Homo sapiens: one gene and its partners. The protein of the gene in region 1 interacts with the protein of each later gene in a pairwise test. Each region holds a gene or a part of one and is shown on either strand. Other genes may lie near its edges.

Region 1 (3,500 bases):
AAACTTCCCTTCTGGTCCTTAGAAGTCAATTCTTCTCAAAGTCTCTGCAGATTTAGTTACCCACCAGAAAAGGAAAGGCTCCCATGGGGGCCTGAGTAATTTCTCACTGGTCAGAGAACCCTAAAAGTGTTAGGCTGCCTGAACAAAGGCAACAAGGCAATGCATGGCAGTCTCAGGGCTGTGTTCCTTTGATTCTTTCATTTGTGTGTGTGTGTGTGTGTGTGTGTGTGTGTGTGTGGTGTGTAAGAGGGAGGCAAGAAGCCAATAAAGATTTAAATGGATGGAGATAACTTGAGAGGTTTGGTTATCCCTCTTTCCCTTCCCTCATGTCTCATATTAGTTAGTCCTTTAGAGCTATAGTCACGAGCAATTTTAATCCTCAGGGTTCTATTTTATTTTATTTTGAGACGGAGTCTTGCTCTGTTGCCCAGGCTGGAGTGCAATGGAGCGATCTTGGCTTTTTGCAACCTCCGCCTCCCTGGTTCAAGTGATTCTCCTGCCTCAGCCTCCCCAGTAGCTGGGACTACAGGTGTGCACCACCACGCCCGGCTAATTTCTTGTATTTTTAATTGATACTAGGTTTCACCACGTTAGCCAGGATGATCTCGAACTCCCTCAGGGTTATTTCTACTGACTATATTAGCTATTCTGTTAGCTAAGAACTTTATCTGAATACTGAATGGTCAGTGTTTGTGAGGTTTGCATTAGAGCTAGGAGCACAAAGACACCTCTGCTCTAGTGTGGTCTGGGCAATGCAGAAAGAAAAGGAGGAACAGTGATCAGAAACAAAAGATGGTGGTCAGAGGTAGGGAACTGCAAGCCTGTCCGTTAGGGCAGAAAGAAGAACAGAAAAGGGATATCAGAGACCTGTGTGTGGCTCCGAGGTGCTGATCTCCATTTCTCTTAATAATACTTCTCTCCAGAGTCAACATACATGGGTCCTATACCTTCCTCAGTTTCCCACCCAGCCCCTAACTGCCCCTGTGCCATGTATGTTAGGTAGATGAGGCTTAAGAAGGAGATCATCCTCCACTCACAGTGGTGGGTACAGAAATGTGTTCCTGGCATCCACATAGAAGTCAGTGGACGGCCTGTTCTTTAAAAATGCAATGAATTGATAAGCTCTGCTGGCCTAGGTCTGGGAGTCTAAGCACCACAAATGAACGCTGTTATGAGCGTTCCCCTACAACTTTGGAACTGCTCAGTGCACCAAATGCTCTGCAAAAAGCGGGTCTTGCTTCAAAGTATTCAGAATTGCAATGCTGTGATTCTCTGCATCTTGGTTTGCGCTGCCTCACTAGGACTAGGGGTATGCTTTCCACTGGAGAGTGCCACCCATATCATTTTAGAGAGGGCTGAGGGAGAAGTCTACTATTGTTTTAGTGAAACACACTGCTAAGAAATAAGTAGTAGCCACCAATACTTCCAATGGTATAAATTCTCATAAATGGTATTTTTTTCAGTGCCTTTGTATGAAGCAAGATTCACAATGGGGCAGAGAATGAATCTCCCCACAAGCTACCTTGCAAGTAATGGGTGGGTGGAAGTTTCAGGAGCAGGGGTTCTTCTGTTTATTATACTCTGCTATTTGATAAATGCCCAGACATTTACCCATTAGTTACCACTAATGGCTTTTTCATAAAGACCTCAGTGATCGCCTCCTCCCAGACTGAGGGTTTCCCTGGGGGCAGGAGGTATCTAGCACAGTGTAAAGACTGGGTAACTAGGGATGATTCAGCCCAGAAACTCAAGAAGATAACTCATTCTGTTTTCACCTGTGTTGGGGGGAAGGCCATTGAAAATAATGGAAGCCCCTCTAAACTGACAGTGAATGATATTAGTAAAACCTGACAAATAATGGGCCAGTGAAAAGATGGAGAAGTTGTAGCTTAAGCTAAACAGCCCCTCCTTCTGGCTGGATACAGCAGCTAAAAACAGAGAGAACTGTGTGTTTTGCACAAGACCGCTTGCTAACTCAAGACATTTTGCTTCTTTCCGTGGTGAAAAGACAGGGAGGGCACCATCACAAAAATCTAAGATGAAAGAGAGTCGCTCTTTTGCTTGATTCTCACATCCATTCTTCCAGCCTGCAATGGGCAGGGCATATGGTCAGGTGGATCCAGGGGCCAGGCACTCGCACACACCACCAGGGCTGTGATGCATGGGCCCAGGTAGAGGTGCCGTGGGAGGGGTCATTGAGACAGAGAGTGTGAGCTGGGCAGAGGAAATCAGACTTGACTTTAGGGGTTACAGAGCAACCCAAGGAGACAAAATGCTGCTGAATTCCCAACAGCCTATCAGGGAGGGAATGTTTTCTGTGACTCATTTAAGTGGCCTCACTTGGTGGATTATATTCTGTCATTGGCCCCTCCAGCCCTTCCCCCTTTTAAGAAGAGGATGTTTGTAAATTAGAAGCAACAGGAACAAGAAAGTCATTTGAAGAGCCCGAGGAGGATTAAACATAAGTATTCGTTATGTAATATTTGTAATTCCCTGCAATCAGCCTGTTCCTTTCCCCATAGGGGGCAAGGAGATCAGGATCTGGTGAGGTGTGAATCTTGGGAGGTATGAGGAAGTTGGGCTGAGAAAGTGAACTTTCTCCTGGTCTTTCCTGAGGGTGTGCTCTTAGAGGTCTCCCCCCTTAAGGGGCAAGGGTTAGACAAATGACAATTTCTAAGAGGACCGAAAGGATTGTATACACCCTGCCTCGTGAACTAGACAGCAGATATCTTATTACTTGCACTTAACATGGGGCAGCCTAGCGATTGAGTAACTGGGTTGGGTTGGCAACAGCTACCCGGCTTCACTTATGAATAATAGTAATAATAATAACCGCAGCTAAAGCAACCCCATTATTAGTAGCTGCCATGTGTCAGACACTAGGTGTTTTACATAAACAATCTGAATTCATCCTCACATTTCCCTTTGCAATTGACATTGCGACTTCCACTTTCTAAATGAGGAAACAGATGAGCGGTCAAATAACTGGATATGATTCTAATTCATCCTCTGTCTGATTCAAAAATCTCTTTTTACTGTGCATTTAAGTCAAGCAGAAAATTGGGGAGGTGTGCTAGAACCTGAGAAAAGCAAAAATGAATTTGAATGTGTGGGGGGATTACTAATAGCAGACATGAAAGCTCCAACCTCTCCCCTGAAGAGGCAGGATAAACGTCATAATTTTTGCATTCACAGTTAAGTTGGACACATTCCTAAAAAACAGCCTGGGTTGGAAGGAAGTGGCCAGATTGGGAAGGGGCTGTTGGAGACGGTCAGGGAGAATGGTGGAAGCCATTGTCTGCCTCTCATTCCTTGCTTGCAGAGAGCAAGGCACCCTGATGTATATTAGATCACTCTAGATTTTTGGTTGCCTGATAAAGACAGTGAGAGGAGATAAAAGGCATGTGAAGTGTTGGAATTATAGTATCAGTGCTCTCTAATAAATACCTGATGTGGCATGAAAGTGCCTCAAGCACATTCAAAGCATCAATTAAATTAGG
Region 2 (3,500 bases), on another chromosome or scaffold:
ACACACATATGACCTATATATGATATATGTATATTGTATATACATTATATGTACATAGAAGATATATGTATATTGTATATACAATATATGTACATATATATGTACATATATATAAAACATATATATTACCTCTTCTCTAAGAAGTGCCTTTGTATTCATTATTCATTTTTAGTTTGCGATGCATCAGCTACAAATCGATAGTATATGAGCCCTCAGACTTACCAGGGTGTACTACTCATGTAGGTATTATAAATATTGTCATACAAATGAATTAGTAGGTTACAATAACCAAGTTTTAGAGTTGAGAGAACCACAACTGGACAACACAAATATTCATTAAATAAAACTTTTTAAAGCAATTACCGTGTAAAATTGTAAAAGTTGCATTTAAAAGCTCTCTCATAGTTGGAGAAGCAAGTCATGAGATTGTTTTAAAAAGCATCTACATAAAGAGACGGGGCAGCCTGAACTAGGGCAGTCACAGGAGTAATGAAAGGCGATGGACAGTTTCAAGGCAACATGTAGGAGACATCACGGACAGGGCTTTGCAATTCACTGGATGAGGAGGGGGAAGAAGAGGATGTCAATCAAGGGTGATGATGCATTCCACTATTCACCTACCAATTTATGATTATGAAGATCAATAAGAAAATTATAAATACACAGATAATGACTCCTATGGTCAGCACAAAAATTAGGGCTGCATCAGTGGCTGGTAGGCTTGATCTTCTCATCTGCAATTCTAGAGAAAACACACAAACCTAAGGAGTATTACTACTGAGGAAAAGGAAATGAATATCTAACTTAAAAGTTTATATTTGAAAAACAACTCTAGAAACATAAAGAAATGCTTAGTGCAGAGAAAATTATTAATGATCTTGCTCTGCATGTTTGAAATGTCCTTTTCAAACATGAAAAAAGTTAAAAGAATTTGACAACGAACAGCCTGTATTACCACCATCTAAATACTACCATTAATATTTTAAAATTCATCTATCCATTCCTCTATCAATTCATTAATCCATCTTATTTTTATGCATTTCAATATAATTTGCAAATGTCAGTACACTTCCTCAAAAATTTTTCAGCAAGCATATCGTTAACTGGAGTTTAATATTAGTTTTTTCTTTGAAATAAAATTTTCACACAAAGAATTGCACAAAGATCTTAAATGTACATTTGCTTAGTTTTGACAAAGGCAAACTCATATATGTAACTAAATGTTAGTCAAGATATAGAATATTACTATACCCCAGAAAGTTCCCTTGAGCCTCTTCCTAATTAACTCCTTCCTCATCCTCCAGAGGCAACAAGCATCCTGATTTTCTTTTCCACCATAGATTAGCTCTGACTATTCTAGAACTACATATAAATTGAAACACACACTAGGTAATCTCTTGTGTAAAGATTTGTTTACTTAGAATAATGTTTTAGAAATTCACCCATACTGTTATATGCAACTATCATTTTTTTATTATTACTAGGTATACTCCACAATTTGTTTACTCATCCTCCTACTGATGGATATCTAGGCTGTTCCAGTTGTGAGATACTATAAATAAAGCTGCCATGAACATTCTTATACAAGTCATTTTGTGAATATATATCTTAATTTTTGGCTAAATGTCTAATAATAGAATTGCTGGGTCGTAGGGTAGACAGATGTGTGTTTAGCTGTCTAAGAAACCATGAGAACTTTCTCAAACTGATTGTACTGACTGTACAGGTTTTATAAATGTTTTCTACCAGATTTTGGCTTGCCTATTCATTATCCTAATGATTTTTGTTAATGAGCTGAAGTTTTTAATTTTGATGCAGTCTGATTTATTCAATGTTTCCTTTTATGGTGATTGTTTTCTGAATTATGTCTAAGAAACGTTTGCCTACTCCTGAATCATGCAAATAGTCTCCTATATTTCTTTCCTAAAACTTTATGGGTTTAGCTTTTACACTTAAGACTATGATACCTCTCTAATTTTTATATTTGCTGTAAGAAAGGAATTGAAGCTCATTGTTTTCTATACACATATCCACATACCCCGACCCCTCTCTCTTTAGGAAATGGGGTCTTGCTATATTGCCCAGGCTGGCCTTGAACTCCTGGGCTCAAGTGATCTTCCCACCTCAGCCTCCCTAGTAGCTAGTATTATAGGCACACACCACTGTACCCACCTCATGCACCACTCTTACCTCAAGCATTCTCTCCCATGTCTCTCTGCTCTTTCAGCAAATAAGGTTATCAAAGAGACAAAGCCAATCTACCGTATGTATTACAGTATTGCTACATTGTAAACTAGTAAAAAGCCAATTAACATAGAATATTACTTACTTTGTGAATTACATAGCTTTATTGTATCTCTTTTATGACCCCAAATTCTGGAATCATAAAAGATTCATGGAAGAAAGAACTACAGAGATCATCTGATCCAACTATTGCATTATACAGATAAGTAAACCAAGGCCCAGGGAGGTTTAATTTGTACAAGGTATATTTTGACTATTTAAATACTTTGATTTTGATAAGTACTACTCTGTCAGAACTAGTCTTCTATATGAGCAATCTCAACTGCTTATTTTTCTGGATTTGTTTCCCTATCTGTTAGACATCATGGAGTATAAGTTTCCATTTTGCCTAGTAATTCTAGAGCTATAAACTCAAGTTAGGGATCTCGCTAAATAGTTCCAAGTATGCTAGAGAAAATACATCTATATTTACGTTCCAACATTGTTGGATTTTTAAAAATCTTTTTATTTCAAAATAACTTTAGATTTACACAAGTGGTGGCATTTTGGAAACTTAAATAAAAAACACCTTTCAGAACTGACACCTGACAAGGAGAAATGCAAATTTCATTTATCCATTACTCTGCAATGTTAGCTGAGAGAGGGTGGAGAGTGAGGGGCATGAAGATTTTATTTATTACAACAGTAGTCTTGCAAGGGTCACCTAGACTATTTTTACAGGTAATGAAAAAAATAGGCTCAATTTCCTATTGAAGTATTTAATGAAAAATAGGCTAAATTTGATGCTCTCACCTTTTAGATAAACTAAGCTTATGTACTTATTAGTTTCCTAGGACCACCATAACAAAGTACCACAAACTGGGTGACGAAAACAACAGAAATGTATTGTCTCGCAGTTTTGGAGGCTAGAAGTCTGAAAACAATGTGTTGGCCGAGCCATGCTCTCACTGAAGGTTCTTGGGGAGGATCCTTCCTTGTCTCTTACAGCTTCTCAGCTTCTGGTAGGCTCAGAAATTCCTTGGATTCTGGTAGCATAACTCCAATTTTTGTCTCCATTTTCACATGGCTGTCTTCTCCCTATGTCTGTTTCTCTGTGTCTTCACCTGGCATTCCGCGCCCCACTTTCCATCTGTGTTTGTGTGTGTGTGTGTGTGTGTGTGTGTGCGCACAAGCATGCCCAAATATTCCTCTTCTTATGAGGGCACCAGTTATATTGGATTAAAGGCCCACTCTGCTCTAGTACAACCTCATCTTAA
Region 3 (3,500 bases), on another chromosome or scaffold:
GCATGGAAAAGCAATTTCCTGAAAACTATTGTAACTACAAAAAAAGTGAATACCCTTTCCCTGCGTCTGCCTGGTATCCTGTGCATATCTCTATCATAATGTTTATTACATAACATATTTATCAGTTTGACTCATCTGTCCCCTCCCCTCCCATAATTAAACTACACTTTTTCTTTTTGAGACCGGGTCTTGCTCTGTTGCCCAGGCTGGAGTGCAATGGTGCAGTCATAGCTCACTGTAGCCTCAAGTGATCCTCCCACCTCAGCCCCTCGAGTAGCTGGGACTACAGGTATGCACCACCACACCCAGCTAATTTTTTTTTTTTTTTTAACTCAGGGTCTCACTATGTTGCCCAGGCTGGTCTCGAACTCCTGGACTCAAGCGATCCCACTTTACCCTCCCAGAGTGCTGGGACAACAGGCATGAGCTACCAAGCCTGGCCTTTAGACCACACTTTTGAAAATAGAGATTGTGTCCTTCTTCACTGTAGTAGCCCAGTATCAAGTACATAGTAGGTATACAAAAACATTTGTTCAAAGAAAAAGGAAGCAGGCAGGGAGATAAAAATCCCCCTGGAGTAAATAACATTGTTAAGTGTTTGCCTTAGCCTTATGTTGGTGGAGCAGTTTTTCTGTTTACCATTTATTTTATTAAGTTTGTTATAACTTAAGCTGTTGATTTTAGGGCATGGCCATTATGTTTATTATATATTATTACAGATAGACTATTTGTCTGGGTTTATATTATCAATAAAAGGATTATAATTGCCAAGATAATATATTGTCCTTAATAAGAAATCTCCTTTTATTTATTAAAGCATGGAAAGAGAAGTTTAGAGGTCATGGTTAGTAGAAAGAAGGAAGTGTGTGTCAATAGATAATTTTCTATTGACACACACTTGTTGATAATTAAAATAGATCATTTCAATTAAAATAATTTTCTATTGACACACACTTGTTGCTACATTCTTTTTTAATCTTTCTCTGTCTGCTGGGACTACTAAAGAAACTTGAACTCCAAGCATTTGGCCTCACATTTCAGAAGATTATCCTTGAAGATACAACCAATAAAGTCCTAAAGTCTCAGACAATGAAAACTATACTGAACTTGTGGTCCAGTTAAAGTGAGCACTATGGTAAGGTAGTAGAATATAGTGAAATGAGAGTGGAATTTATAATTAAAAGATTTAGGTTGAGATCACCCTACCATCACTTAAGAGATTTGTATGAAGGATGGTCCAAGAACATTTAGAACTCTGACTTACTGCCCCAAGTGTAGTCTGTTTCTCCTCCAGAGATAGAGTCCCCAAGCAGATTGTTAGTTGATATTTTCTCCATAGTGCCCAGATCCCAAAAGGTAATTCACTTCATAAAAAGTTTCTTCCTCTAAACTTATCAATAGTGATCTTAAAGTTGTGGTAATAATAATGGCTACTGCTTGTTGAATACTTCCTAAGTGTCAAGCCCTTTACATATTTTCTCGTTTTATCTCCACAACAACTGAGTGAAATAAATACTGTTCTTTTCCCCATTTTACTGATAAGAAAATTTAGTGGTAGATTTGGAATCTAACACCAAAAATGCAAGCTTTTAGCCACTGCTTAGCTGTTAATCACAGTGAAGAACTGAGAACTTTATCATCTAGTTTTCTTCTGCTTCCATTTCCCATTTTTAAATGAAAACGATGTTACCCTCCAAAGACTTATATGAGAAAAACTTAATTGTGAATAATTTTAAGATGTCCAAGTAAAAGAGCTGGGAAAAAAAAAAAAAACCTAAAAAGTGGGAGGGTTTTTGTTCTGTTTTCATGTATTTCAGGCCTAGATGAAATTTAATTAACTTAATACCCATTATGAAATTGTTTTTCTCTCCAATTTTCCTGAACATAAATGTTTTGGTGCTTCCAGACATGGGCCATGTTCAGCCCATTCTTCTGCTTTCCTGAATTCTCTAACGTCATGGTTGGAAAAGGTCTGATTTTTTTTTTAAAAAGAAAATACTTGAGGAAAGCAGTTGACAACTGCTTGGGCAGGAGATGGTTCTGTACTGTATCCCAGGATCCTGTCTGCTGTTTCAGTTTGTCTTATGTGAGAGGCAGTCTTTTTTTTTTCTTTTCCCCAAAAAAACAACACACTCAACTCATCCAGCAACTATTTAACAAATGTTTTTTGAGTACCTGTTATATACACTAAGTGTCTTCCATATTAGCTTATTTACTCATCACACTAACCTGAGGAGGTACTCTTATTAGCCCTATGTTTCAATGGGTAGACTGAGGCACAGTTGAATAATAAGGTACTTTCTCAAGATCACACAGCTAGTAAGTGGCAGAGCCATCTGTGAACCTATTATGCTATACTGTTTTCATAAAACCAAAATCTCATGAAGACACACAACTGAATAGAATAATTACAAGTGTGATAAATGTTGTTTTAAAAGGGTAAAGGGCTATTGCAGCATTATTTTAGACTGAGAGGTCCAAATTTAAAATTATTGCTGTTGCTCTCACCTATTTTTTTCCTCTTGTATGGCCTGAAACATTTGAATGCAGGAAAACTACAGAAAATCCTTAAAATATTTAGGAAATAAGACATTTATGCTTATTTACTTTCCTTATTCTTTTTGAGCTAAGCAAAGAATAACTGTTATTGCAAATCTTTCTTAGAAGTATTAGTCCATTTGTTTTCCTTAGTATTTCACAGTAAACACATTTTAAGCTTTGTAATTCAAACCACATAGTGCTTCATCAGTATCAGTTCTTTTGGTCTAGCATTTATAACTATAGATGGATTTTAATAGGGAGGAAAAGTTACAGTCTTCACTCATGGTTTTTAACTTGATACCATCTGGCCTGTAGCTACTCTAGCCCCAAGAATAATTTCTTCTCTAGAGATTTAAGGATAAGGGCATTCGAACAACTAAGCCGTGCCTAATTAAAATACTAATTTGAAAGGCAGGCTATAATGTGTGTGTGCTTGTTTGCTTTGAAATCTTCTGCCTTAAATGAATTGCAAGTTTTGATCTCTAATGAAACACTATCATTTTTTAACATACGTTTATCGAGACGCTACCATGTGGTAAACTCTGCCTCTTTCTCACTTCTAGCTTTTTTAATCTATCTCTCTTTGTAGGATTCTGTCTTCATTTTTGTTTCTCCCATTTTTACTCCTTCTATTTCTCTTATTTTCCTTCGCTTCTGCTATGTCCTTCCCTTCTTTGTCTTTTTCTCCTAAAATTCCAGTCATTTGAAAAACTTAGTTATAGTAAAAATTTGATTAATTGAAGAGGAATTTATATTCACTTACTCTACCTGCCCTTTTGCTTATTTTCACCAGGAGTTTTTGTTTATCAGGCCTTATAAAGGCCTTGCTTCAAAATAAGCAAAAGGGAGAAACTGAGAAGCTGGGAAATGTACCCTTATTTGAATAGCTGGAAGAAAGATCAAATGCATTATTTAATTTATGCAAGTCTTCCTCCTCAAATAAATAGTTGGCTGACATA
Region 4 (4,208 bases), on another chromosome or scaffold:
GGTCATTCTCCACTTGGAATGGGTTTGCTCTAGGTGTTGGCAGCTGAACATACATGTCTTGCTCTAGGCAGTTGCTTAGCAGTTTGGTTTTCTTTTGCTTTTGGGAATTCAGGAAACAGAGGTGGGTGGTCAGTGGGAGAAGGTTGATTGTCTAGAGACCAAAATGAATTAAATACTTTATTACCTTTCCAGTAAAGGGGCTGTGAGTCTAACTGTATGTGTGGTTCCCTCCACCACACCCTAAATCAAAAGTTCCATCCCTGGAGTCTCTTTAATTCTAGAGACACTGAGATTTAGCTCATACAGAAGGAGAAAATGACCTTCAACTGGATAAGCTTTCCTTGAGTACCCATTAGATACAAAACACTGCTGGATGTTGCAGTGAGAACAAACAAACAAAAAGCACAGGGAATACTCATATGTGAGTGAAGAGATAAATCTATAAATATATAAGTTCCGCAAGTGATTGGCAAATAAAATTCTGAGAGGGCAAAGAGAGGGGAAAGATTTCTGCCTCGAGTCAGAGGACTGGGGTAGCGGAAAAAAGCTTTAGAAAAAAAGGTGGTATTTGTAGAGTCTGGAGAGGCGGGTTCCTCTGCCCCAAACTGGTGTCTACTGCAGATATGGTAAATAATTAAAATCATGAAATAAGAACATCACTAAAACCATTAATTTGACTTACTCTTAAAACACACGCGCGCACGCGAGCGCGCTCGCACACACACACACTGGCGTGCGCGCGCTTTTTTAAGGGGCCTATAGACTCCATTTCGGCTGCAGGTTAAAGTCATCCCAGGAAGGAGAAAGGAAAATTGAATTCCACCTTCTTCTGATTTAGAAAGCTAGATTGGTTGAGGATCGGGATCAGGGACCACAACTCAACCCCGAAACTTTGGGCTTCCAGAACTGCAGGGGAAACTGATTCTGAGATCAGACAACGGACCCTGGGGCGGGAGGGGGGTACCTTATTCATAACCCTCCCTCACAATAGCGGAGCACAGTACTCAGCACCCAGTAAACACTCATTTGTCGAATTGATTTTAAGCCTCCGCTTTTCCCCCAAGGAGGGCAATCAATCCCTTGCACGTTTTGCTCCTTTCACCAGCTTAATTCAGCTCTGATCTCAGTAGTTAGAAAAATAGGAGAAAGAATGGGGCCATAGCCTGCTGCAAGTAGAGCTGTGTAAGGGGGTGCGAGGAAGGCAGGCGAGAGCAGCAGAGGGAGTTAATACTCCTACCTCAGCTGGTCTCCGGCAGCCAACGCTCAGCCCCCGCCTCCTCTCTCCATTCCGGACCCCGCAACCGCGAGGCGAGAGAGCAGCGCCGGCGAGGCACTGGCTGGGCTCTGACTGTCACGTTAATTCCCTGCTGCTTTTTCTAGTCCCCAGCCGCCTCGCCCCTCCTCCCTCATTCCCAGCCTGGGTTTGGAGGCGATTTCCCTCTATTGACTGAGCCGACTGCATCTCTGGGCAAGCGGCGCTTTGCCTCTCTCCTGTCTTTGTCTGCTCTTCCTGCAAGGCTACGGCGCCTGGAGCAGGGTCTGCAGCGGCCGCCGCAGCAACGCGAGCCAAGTCGTGCCCCGCACGGCCGCCCGGGGCCGCACCCTCGCTCGGTGGCGGCGCCCGAAGACGCCAGCCGCGCCACGCACTGCCTGCGTCCCGCGCCCCAGCCGCCGCGCACCAACGCCGCCGCCTTCGCCGGGAGCCAAGCCCGCCGGGCCGGCCCGGTCCCAGGTGGGCAGCTCGGCTTGCAGCTGGTTGGAGGTGGCGGCCGCTGCAGCCCTGGCAGCGGGCACACCCCTAAGCATACGCACCCAACGCCTCCTCCCTGAGCCACGAGGATGGAGCAGCCACCCCGGCCCGGGACTGGCGCAAGGTAAGGTGCAGCCGCCTGTTGCTTTTCGCAGAGCGCGGGATCATCCCTCTGCCCGGGTACCTAGGCCGTCCCTCCAAGGAACAAGTAGAGGAGAACTATTACACCAGTTCTAAGCCGTGCCTGTCTAAGCCTCCCTGATCCCTTTTGCGCAGACCCTGGGAGAGACCTCCTCCTGGAGAGAGAGAGTCGACCCTCTTCGCTCCTGTTCAGCCGGCTGCTATACAATAGTCTGCAAACTTTTGTGACCCCTTCCCTGCGCGGTGCTCACCCCGTGCTGTGCAACTTGCAGGTTTAGTTCTTGCCCTTCCCCCAGCCCCTCTTGCCATATGCATCTGCCCATTTCTCTCTGTGTGTTCTTGCCAGTCGACTTTTCACTCCCCGCAGCTCTGGCTCCTGAGGCGAGGGTTTGGGACCCAGCAGTGCTCGTCCTGCCTCTAGGAGCTGGGTAGGGACAGAGAAGGTGAAATAAGAGAGGTGGGACATGGAGGATGGCTGCGGCCACCCCTGAAGCTTCGTCCAGCGCGATGGGAGTCAGTCCATCCTTGCACACGCCACCCCCAACTCGGCAATGAAACCTTTGGAGTGGCTTGCGGCTGTGCGCCGTGGGAACTGCAAGTGCAGATATGGGTGGGTGAAGTAAGTGGCTCAGGGAGGGAAAGGCTGCTCGTGCGGTGGAGGAGGAAGCTGAGGGTCGGGTAGATCTGCCCACGGTTGAGGGAAATGAAAAGGTACTGCTAATGTGGGCGAGCGGCCAGCCCTGAGAGGCCATCTGACGAAGAGGAAAAGGGATTTGAGTCCGGAGGGCGCTGGCCTGGGTATGTAAATACAGATGGGGGAGGGGCTGGGTACCTGGGGGCGCGTGGAGACAAGGAATGGAGCCCCGGAATGCCGGGCCCTTGGGTACTTGGGAAGGCAGGCTGCTGAGTGCCTGGGATGGGGCGATCTTCCTCCCCAGAAGCAAACAAACCTCCCCGCGAGAATCTGAATGCGTTGGCATCTTGGGTGGTGACTGAATGGTCAGATCGTGGACTAGGGATGCTTCTCCAAGCTCTAAGAGGACCATAGTCTGCTCTCTTCTCTGGCACCCGCTTGCTTCTACGCTCCTTCACCTCTGCAGCCAGGTCGGTAGACCCACGCCCACCTTCCCTGCCAGGCACTCAGGAGTCAAGGATGTTTCCACAGCCGCAGTGTAGGAAGGGGACTCCTGCCTCCCAGGGGGAGACGTGTGTGCGGGGTAGAGGGGAGTCCCCAGCGCGCGGCGAGTAAACAGGGGTCCAAAGTGGTTGGAGGAGAGCGCAGGAGCGGAGGCTGCGGTGGGAGCCACTTTCCCCCGCCCCTCCACAAATCGCACCTGGGCGGAGCGAGGGAGTGGGGGGAGCCCTGTGCTGCGCCCGGGAGGCTGGGGAGCGCAGAGCTGGAGGGCGTGCAGGGAAACGCAGAGCTAGGAGGTGTGGGCCTCGGGTGAGGGGAGACCCAGCTCTTAGACCTGGGAGCCCAGACAGAGGTGGATCTGCCCACCTTGCAGCTCCCAGGTAGATTCTTCTTGTGGCTCCAGATGCTCTGGCGAATGCAGGAGGGGGAGGCTCTTTTCTCCTTTGCACCCCAGCAATCTGGAGTGCAAGACCGTTTGCGGGAGGGGGCTTAGTCGGCTGTTTCGAAGAGGCAGCCTCCCCTCCCTTTTATCCATCAAGCCCCCTATTTCCTGGTGGGGGCACAGTGACTGCCAAGGCCAGTAAGCACCTCACTTAACCCTTCTCTCCCTGAGGAGGTGCATGCTCCTCTCCCAGAGGTGCCTTTGGCTGAGAGTGGATCCCTGGTTCCTAGTAGCCCTATAGGGAAACATTTGGAGGTTGGGTGGGTTTGGAACCCTGTACAACCTTTAGGTCCTCCCTGTTCAGACCTTCCACGTGCAGGCTTTTCTTACTTTCTCCGCGGGTGCCCTACAGAGGACTCCTGCTGCCTTGTACCAGTTGGGAAAAAGCAAAATTCAGAGCAGTTCCTTTTTCTGGGTCCCTCGCCTTGGCCACATCGGAGGAAACGTCGACTCGCCAGGGCTCCCGGGAGAAATCCCGAGGTCAGTCCCTCCCATTCTGGGGCACCCCTGGAGCAGCTAGCTCCCTGCCTAGCGGTGGCAAACTCCAGAGCCCCAAGGAGCAGAACGGGGATTCCCTGTGCGCAGGCTCCTGGTGCAGCTCCTGAGCACAAAGGCCACACCCTCACAGACCAGGCCTGGTGAGAGAGCCGGGCTTCTTCAGAAGTACCTGGATACCTGAGGTAGGATCCTAGACTTGAAACTCGCACTCCACGAGATTTAGCTCTGACCCCCCCAAGGCT

What was found.
Region 2: the proteins of EMP1 (region 1) and SPACA1 interact in binary tests that used the Homo sapiens proteins (3 or more experiments, as listed by UniProt).
Region 3: the proteins of EMP1 (region 1) and STOM interact in binary tests that used the Homo sapiens proteins (3 or more experiments, as listed by UniProt).
Region 4: the proteins of EMP1 (region 1) and LRRC3B interact in binary tests that used the Homo sapiens proteins (3 or more experiments, as listed by UniProt).

What each region holds. Positions count from the first base shown.
Region 1 is NC_000012.12:13,206,726-13,210,225, forward strand, and holds part of EMP1 (epithelial membrane protein 1), read left to right. Parts: intron 1-3,500.
Region 2 is NC_000006.12:88,061,341-88,064,840, reverse strand, and holds part of SPACA1 (sperm acrosome membrane-associated protein 1 precursor), read right to left. Parts: intron 762-3,500; coding exon of another isoform or gene 743-761; coding exon 622-742; intron 1-621. UniProt on the Homo sapiens protein: Plays a role in acrosome formation and establishment of normal sperm morphology during spermatogenesis. Important for male fertility.
Region 3 is NC_000009.12:121,363,751-121,367,250, reverse strand, and holds part of STOM (stomatin), read left to right. Parts: intron 1-1,005; exon of another isoform or gene 1,006-1,135; intron 1,136-3,500. UniProt on the Homo sapiens protein: Regulates ion channel activity and transmembrane ion transport. Regulates ASIC2 and ASIC3 channel activity.
Region 4 is NC_000003.12:26,621,364-26,625,571, forward strand, and holds the start of LRRC3B (leucine-rich repeat-containing protein 3B precursor), read left to right. Parts: upstream 1-1,408; 5' UTR 1,409-1,874; intron 1,875-2,235; exon of another isoform or gene 2,236-2,689; intron 2,690-2,717; exon of another isoform or gene 2,718-2,995; intron 2,996-3,282; exon of another isoform or gene 3,283-4,148; intron 4,149-4,208.